Linked DNA regions of Homo sapiens. The protein of the gene in region 1 purifies or fractionates together with the protein of each later gene. This does not show direct contact. Each region holds a gene or a part of one and is shown on either strand. Other genes may lie near its edges.

The links.
Region 2: the proteins of UBTD1 (region 1) and VPS13C purify together in Homo sapiens (affinity purification with mass spectrometry; one large-scale study listed by BioGRID and IntAct). This does not show direct contact.

What each region holds. Positions count from the first base shown.
Region 1 is NC_000010.11:97,505,405-97,509,227, forward strand, and holds part of UBTD1 (ubiquitin domain-containing protein 1), read left to right. Parts: intron 1-3,823. UniProt on the Homo sapiens protein: May be involved in the regulation of cellular senescence through a positive feedback loop with TP53. Is a TP53 downstream target gene that increases the stability of TP53 protein by promoting the ubiquitination and degradation of MDM2.
Region 2 is NC_000015.10:61,959,275-61,963,097, reverse strand, and holds part of VPS13C (intermembrane lipid transfer protein VPS13C), read left to right. Parts: intron 1-245; coding exon 246-349; intron 350-559; coding exon 560-727; intron 728-1,204; coding exon 1,205-1,509; intron 1,510-3,502; coding exon 3,503-3,650; intron 3,651-3,823. UniProt on the Homo sapiens protein: Mediates the transfer of lipids between membranes at organelle contact sites. Necessary for proper mitochondrial function and maintenance of mitochondrial transmembrane potential.

The DNA.
Region 1 (3,823 bases):
GGAGGTCTAGTCTCTGCCACTTTCTTGAGTGGTAATCTTGGGCAGGTCATTTGTTTCTTCCTCAGTTGATCCCCCGTTTTAAAAAGATAATATTTCCAGTTTCCTTCACAGAGATGTTATGGAGATAAAATAAGCTAATGGTGGTTTAAAAATTACTTTCATGGCTACACAGTGTGCTCAGATATGAGGTCCCAACACAGAGTTTCATCTGGCATTGGTGGAAAATGAAGCCTGGGGTCTCTGCTCCTTCCTAGTTGTTTGTGTGACTTTGGACAAGCCTCTTGATCTCTTTGAGCCTCAGTTTCCCCATTTGTGCCATGAGGTGACTGCCACCCTGATCACCTTTCAGAGAGGTTGTAAGATTAAAGTGAGACCCTGGATGAAAAGAGATTTTGTGATCTTAGAAAGTTTCTATTATTCCAAGCTACCAGGATTTTTACACACAAAAGCCATAGCCAGTGATTTTTCCCACTAGATCATTGAAGCTTACTCTTTTTTAAGGAGCAAAACTATAAAAGAAATGTTTAAAAACTATTTTTGGATGGGAATCTTTCTGAAACGAATGATATGCTTCTGAGCAAAATATTAATATACAGCTCAGAAAGAACCTCTGGTTTGGGACTAGGGGTTGTTGAGTTCATACCGGTGTGTACAGAGCGCCTGCTTGGTGAGAGTGGGACCACAAAAGGTTCTTTCTCTCAAAAGTGTTACCTCCCAAAGAAGAGACCTGGGGTGGGGGAGGGACCTAGTGGTGGGCAGAGGGAAATTGCTGGGGGAGAGCCCACTCCGGGAGTGCCCTGCCTCAAGGTTCCAAGTAGCAACACTGGCACTGCAGGAAGGCTCTTAAATCCTGTTCAAGGCTCTGAGTGGGAAGAGCCAGTCCTACCCGGTCAGTTACTGTGCTTATAGTAGTGTGAGGCCACGGGGCTTGTGAGACTCTAGGGCAGTGGGCCCCAAACTACGTGGTTCCCAGCTGTTGGGCTTTGGGGGTTCATGTTTCCACCTACAATCATTGCTGTGTCTTCTGCCTGGTAGACAGTAGTCACTTCTCTTTTTTTTCTTTCCTTTTTCTTTTTTTTTAAGTGGTTACCTAGATATGACATAAAATTTACTTGTATGTAACAGCAAATTTTTCAGTCTATAGTTTTGTAGCATGAGTACATTCTTTGTATTTATTGTTGTACAACCATCCCAGTACCCATCTCCAGAACTTTTTCATTTTCCCCAACTGAAACTCTTTTACCCATTAAGCACTATCCATTTCTTCATCCCCCCAACCACTGGCAACTGATATTCTGCTTTCTCTTTTATGAGTTTGACTACTCTGGATACCTCATATGAGTGGAATCATGTAGTATTTCTCCTTTTGTGGCTGGCTTGTTTCACTTAGCATAATGTTGTCAAGGTTCCATGGTGTAGCATGTGTCAGAATGTCCTTCCTTTTTAAGGCTGAGTAATATTCCATTGTATGTATATACCACATTTTGCTTATTCATTCCTCCATTGATGGACCCCTGGGTTGCTTCCACCTTTTGGCTATTGTAAATAATACTGCTGTGAACATGGGTGTGCAAACCAGGAGCAAAAGGTGAATGCTCTCTGAGTCTCTGCTTTCAGTTATTTTGTGTATATACCCAGAGGTGGAATTTCTGGATCAAAAGGTAATTCTATTTTTACTTTTTTGAATAACCCCCCATAACACTTTCCTCAGCAGCTGCACCATTTTATATTCTCACCAACAGGGTGCAAGAGTTCCTGTTTCTCTACATCTTCACCAACAGTTGTTATTTTCTGCTTTTTGTTGATTAGGTTTGGATTGGTTTTATAATAGCCATCCTAATGAGTGTGAAGTGGTTTATCATGTAGTGATCATTTATGCTGGGCTCAAAGAGCAGTCCCTCCAAATCTCTGGGAAAACAGACATCTGAGTGTGTTAGAATTGTGCATAGAGGCTGGGCATGGTGGCCTACACCTATAATCCCAGCACTTTGGGAGACCAAGGCAGGAGGATTGCTTGAGGCCAGGAGTTCAAGAAAAACCCGGGCCACATAGTGAGACCTCGTCTCTATTAAAAAAAAAAAAAAATTGGCCTGGGCACGGTGGCTCATGCCTGTAATCCCAGCACTTTGGGAGGCTGAGCCGGGCAGATCACGAGGTCAGGAGTTTGAGACCAGCCTGATCAACATGGTGAAACCCCGTCTCTACTAAAAATACAAAAAAAATTAGCCGGGCATGGTGGCACGTGCCTGTAATCCCAGCTACTCAGGAGGCTGAGGCAGGAGAATCGCTTGAACCTGGGAGGCGGAGGTTGCAGTGAGCCAAGATTGCACCACTGCACTCAAGCCTAACGACAGAGCAAGACTCCGTCTCAAAAAAAAAAAAAAAAAAAAAAAAAAGAGAGGAACCTGGCAGGAAAGGGGCTGGAACACCTTCTGCAAGGTGTGGGGAGGGAGACTGAAGGGACAGGGATGACTCCTCGTTTGTATGTTTTTCCTCTGGAAGTCTTGGGACAAGGAGCAAAGGGTGAATGGTGCCTAGGCAGCCAGTCACTAACCAAGTAGCCTGAATCTTAGTTTCCAGCCTGCGCACTTGGAGTTTTGTTGTTTTTAAAGGCTCAGAGAGATGTAATTAGCAGCAGCTCACCTTTGCAGGGTGTTTGCCATGTACTAGGAGCATCACGTGCAGTATTTGGGTTAATTCTCACAACCACCCTATGGGTGGATTCTGTTATCACCTTTTCACAGATGAAGAAGCTGAGCCTTAGAAAGGTAATGTCTGCTGCCTAAGGTCACACAGCTTGTAAACTGCAGAGCTGGGACTGGAACCCAGGTGTCTGATCTCAGAGCCCACGCTTTGGGCCAGTGTGTAGTTTGTCCTCATGAGAATGGGAAGAAGAGAACGCTTTTTTGTTTTGTTTTGTTTTTTAATGAGTTTATTATTGAGCACCTTCAGGCACCACTTTGCTGGATCCCTTCACAAACATCATCTCATTTGATTCTCCCTATTTTACCTATGGGAACATGCCTACCTATTTTACATATGGGAAAGCTGATGGCCAGGAAAATGAATGGATTGCCAGTGGTTATGATGCTAAGAGACAGAGCTGGAACTCAGCCTGAGGATGTTGATTCATTCCAGTGCTCACAGCTCGTTCCATTGTGCTGTGAGCCCTGACCAGCTCCCACCCCACCCCCATGGAAAGAAGCTGGTAGGTCAGCTGTGAAGTCTGCAAAACTCCAAGGACTATAGCCACTGCTTTCCTTTCACATTGCTGTCCCTTCTTCCTTTAATTTCCCCACCCCCAGACCACCACCTCCACACCTAGAAGCCATGTGAGTCCATCATCTTGGATCAAAGTGCTTGGCACATAGTAGGTGCTCAATAAATATGCGTTGAATGTTGTTTGAGGGCTCGGTGTGCTAGAGGCAATAGAATCTCAGCCAAGATTGTGTTCCTAAAGAGAAACACAAGTAGAATGCAAATATTGTTGTTTCCTCCTCCTTCTCCCAGAGCAAACCTCCGCTTTCCAACACCCAGATGCCAGGGACTTGAAGAAAAGATTGTCCTTGCTCTGCAAACTTTGAATTATTCCCAAATTCCCAAAGGAAAAGAGGCACAGAGAGTCATGTTAGCAAAGTGCTTGCAGAATCAGGTGTCACTCTTCGTAATTAATAAGATTAACAATCTCTTTCTTCTCTCAGCATTTTGCGGTTTTCAAAATGCTTTCTCAAGTATTAGATATCATTTGATCTCCACAGCCATCCTGTTAGATAGGCAAGGCAGGACTCATTTTTCCCGTTTTATAGGTGAGGACACTGAGACT
Region 2 (3,823 bases), on another chromosome or scaffold:
AATCTATTTGTACTAGATGTATTTCTTCCCCTGATTGAAAAGTCACATAATCATTGTTTAATGAATTTATAGGTTTTGGTGTTTATAAAACCAAAAAACTCTAATATTGCAACTTATTTATCCATTGGGAGTTGAAACATTGCTAAATTTAAAAAAGTCACCCCAAAATAAAATAATGTAATGGAAAGAAAGATCTTATTTATGGTAGGTCTGTAGAAATTATAATAATACACTCTTTTTTTCAGGACTGGATTCCTCCCTTTCTCTCCAGTCAAGAAAGCAGTCACTTTTTGCCCGACTAGAAAATATTATTGTCACAGATGTTGATCCAAAGACAGTTCATAAGAAAGTAGGTGATTGTAAACAGATAGTTAATATTCTTTAATGACTGAATATGAGCTTCTATTGTAAAATGTATTTTATTTTAAAAACATTAATGAAATATATTTCAATAGAAAAATTTTTTTATAAAGATTATAAATGTAAAGCCTTTTGTAAATGAGATTTTATTTTGTCATTACCTTCCCGGATAGAGTACATTCAAGTCTCTGTTTTTCAGGCTGTGTCAATAATGGGAAATGAAGTTTTCCGTTTTAATTTGGATTTGTATCCAGATGCTACTGAGGGGGATTTGTATACTGACATGTCCAAAGTGGATGGTGTGCTGTCTCTGAATGTTGGCTGTATTCAGATTGTCTATCTTCATAAATTCCTTATGTCACTTCTGGTAAAATAATTATTTGTATATTGATTTTTCAACTTTGAAATATTTTAAAAGTGTGATAATTATGATGGCAAATGTTATAAACCTTGGATTTTAGAGTGGGCATTATTTTAATTATATTTATGCGTGAATGTAGAGATCAAAACCCCTATTTAACAGTTGAAAAGTGAATCATTTAATGATTTTTGTCTAGAACAAATTATTTTTGCTACAATATAATGAAGCCAGATTCTTTAGTATAAAAATTATTGGAAAAAAATTTTTCTCTGTTCCTTAACCATATAACATTAGCTCAGTTCAGGCAGCTCATAGTTATAGATGGATTATCCGTAATTTCTTAATACTGCTAGAAAAATAGGGCTCAATGGAAAGTTAAATATTGGAAAAAAAAAGTTACCACATGTATGAAAAGAAGATAGTGTTATTATTGATGTGCCTGTATTCTCTTTGAATTTCTCTTTTTATGCTTTGTGTCCACAGAACTTCCTGAATAATTTCCAGACAGCCAAAGAGTCTCTGAGTGCTGCCACTGCCCAGGCTGCAGAAAGGGCTGCCACAAGTGTGAAAGATCTTGCCCAGAGGAGTTTTCGTGTTTCCATCAATATTGATTTGAAAGCACCGGTTATAGTCATCCCACAGTCTTCTATTTCCACCAATGCAGTAGTGGTAGATCTTGGGTTAATCAGAGTTCATAATCAGTTCAGTCTGGTGTCTGATGAAGACTACTTAAATCCTCCAGTAATTGATAGAATGGATGTGCAGCTAACAAAGCTTACACTTTATAGGTATGCTCTTTCAATAATTATGGATTTAAATATTATATTCATGATTTCCATGAAATTTTATGACTTGAAATTCCTACCCAACACAGTTTATTCAAATAAACTGTTCCATTACACGGAACAGTTTTTTTTATTGTTGTCATTGTTTTGTGTGTGTGTGTGTGTGTGTGTGTGTGTGTGTGTGTGTGTGTGTGTGTTTTGAGTTGGAGTCTTGGTCTGTCACCCAGGATGGAGTGCAGTGGCGTGATCTCGGCTCACTGCAACCTCTGCCTCCTGGGTTCAAGCAATCCTCCTGCCTCAGCCTCCCGAGTAGCTGGGACTATAGACATGTGCTACCATGCCTGGCTAATTTTTTTTGTATTTTTAATAGAAATGGGGTTTCACCATGTTGGCCAGGCTGGTCTCAAACTCCTCACCTCAGGTGATCCACCTGCTTTGGACCCCCAAAGTGCTGGGATTACAGGTGTGAGCCACCGCGCCTGGCCCAGAAGAGTTTTTTATTTTGTGTTTTGAGATGAAGTCTTGCTCTGTCGCCCAGGCTGGAGTGCAATGGTGCAGTCTTGGCTCACTGCAACTTCTGCATCCTGGATTCAAGTGATTCTCCTGCCTCAGCCTCCTGAGTAACTGGGACTATAGGCACGTGCCATCATGCCTGGCTAATTTTTTTGTATTTTTCGTTATAGAGATGGGGTTTCACCATGTTGGCCAGGCTAGTCTCAAACTCCTGATATCAGGTGTTCTGCCCATCTTGGCCTCCCAAAGTGCTGAGATTACAGGCATGAGCCATCGCACCAGGCCACCAGAACAGTTTTTTAATCAACTTTTGTTTTAAAAAATTTCAGACCTACAGAAAAATGGAAAAAAATAGTACTGTGAATGCACCTACATATCCTTCATCTAGATTCACCAGTTGTTTATATTTGCTTTAACCTATCTATAAACATATACATATTATTTAAAACATTTTTTGCTAAATCATTTGAGAATAGACATCTTTAACTTTTTGTCCCTAAATACTTTATCATATGTCTCCTATAAACAAGGACATTCATTCTCTTATATTAACTATGATATAATTCTAGAAATTTAATATCGATGTAATACTATAATCTGAAATTCAGTCAATATTCAGATTTTACCAGTTGTCCCATTATAATAATTCGCATTATAGGAATGTCCATTATAAAAATTTCTCCCTGATTCAGGATCACCCATAGCGTATAATTGTATTCTGTACTATTGAGGAAGATTTCTGTACTGACAGAAATTTATTTTGGAGTAGTTCTTCAGCTTTTCTTTGTCTTTTTATGACTACATGACTACTACTGTAGTTTTGAAGACTACAGTCCGGTTCCACTCACCTCTCAATTTGGTTGTGTCTGAGTGATTCCTCATGGTTTGATTGAACTTACACATTTTTGGCAGGCATGTTGTGTAAATTATTTTGTATCTTCAGTGCTCATACCAGGTGGCACATGAAATCTGTACATAATTCATTTTAAAATTATTTTCTACCCCATCCATGAAGATTTAATTATGTAGAATAAAAAATTAATGACTACAAGGCAAGTCTAGAAAATAATCCTAGAGAAAACCTTTATGAAATGCCTTGGAAAATGCTAACTCCTCTTGTTCACTTTGCCATCATTTTCTTCAGTCTCTGCACCAACATACCTATTAATCCTTGAACAACTGTATATGATGATTTTCTGTATTTCTTCAATGGTGTGGATTGCTTTTAAAAACTTATTCAATTTTTCACCTATCTACTGTTTAAAGAAAAAAGTTTTCTTAATGGTTCATTGTATATCACCTTTTAATTTGTCCCTTCTAGTGGATTATAGATTAATTATAGGTTCAGTTTTGAAAATACTCAAGCCACACTGTTTCAGATCAGTATTTAGAGCAGCAAATAACTGCTTGACTTTGCTTTTTTTTAATATGTTGCATTTCTACCCTATATCTATGCATTATGTAACATTTCTGTTTTTCGTAGGACAGTGATCCAGCCAGGCATCTACCATCCTGATATTCAGCTGTTGCACCCAATTAACTTGGAATTTCTTGTAAATCGGAATCTAGCTGCATCTTGGTACCACAAGGTGCCTGTTGTGGAAATTAAAGGACATCTTGATTCAATGAATGTAAGTATATGAGTGAAGAAAAAACTTCATTGTTGAAATTTTAAACTCCAAAGACTTTTAGCAGAAATCCAAATGAAATGTAGACTCTTTTGCTGAATAGTATAAGAGAAATTTCAGTGAGACTTTGTCCAACAAGATCATTATTATTTTCAGTAGAATTTAATCTTTAGTTA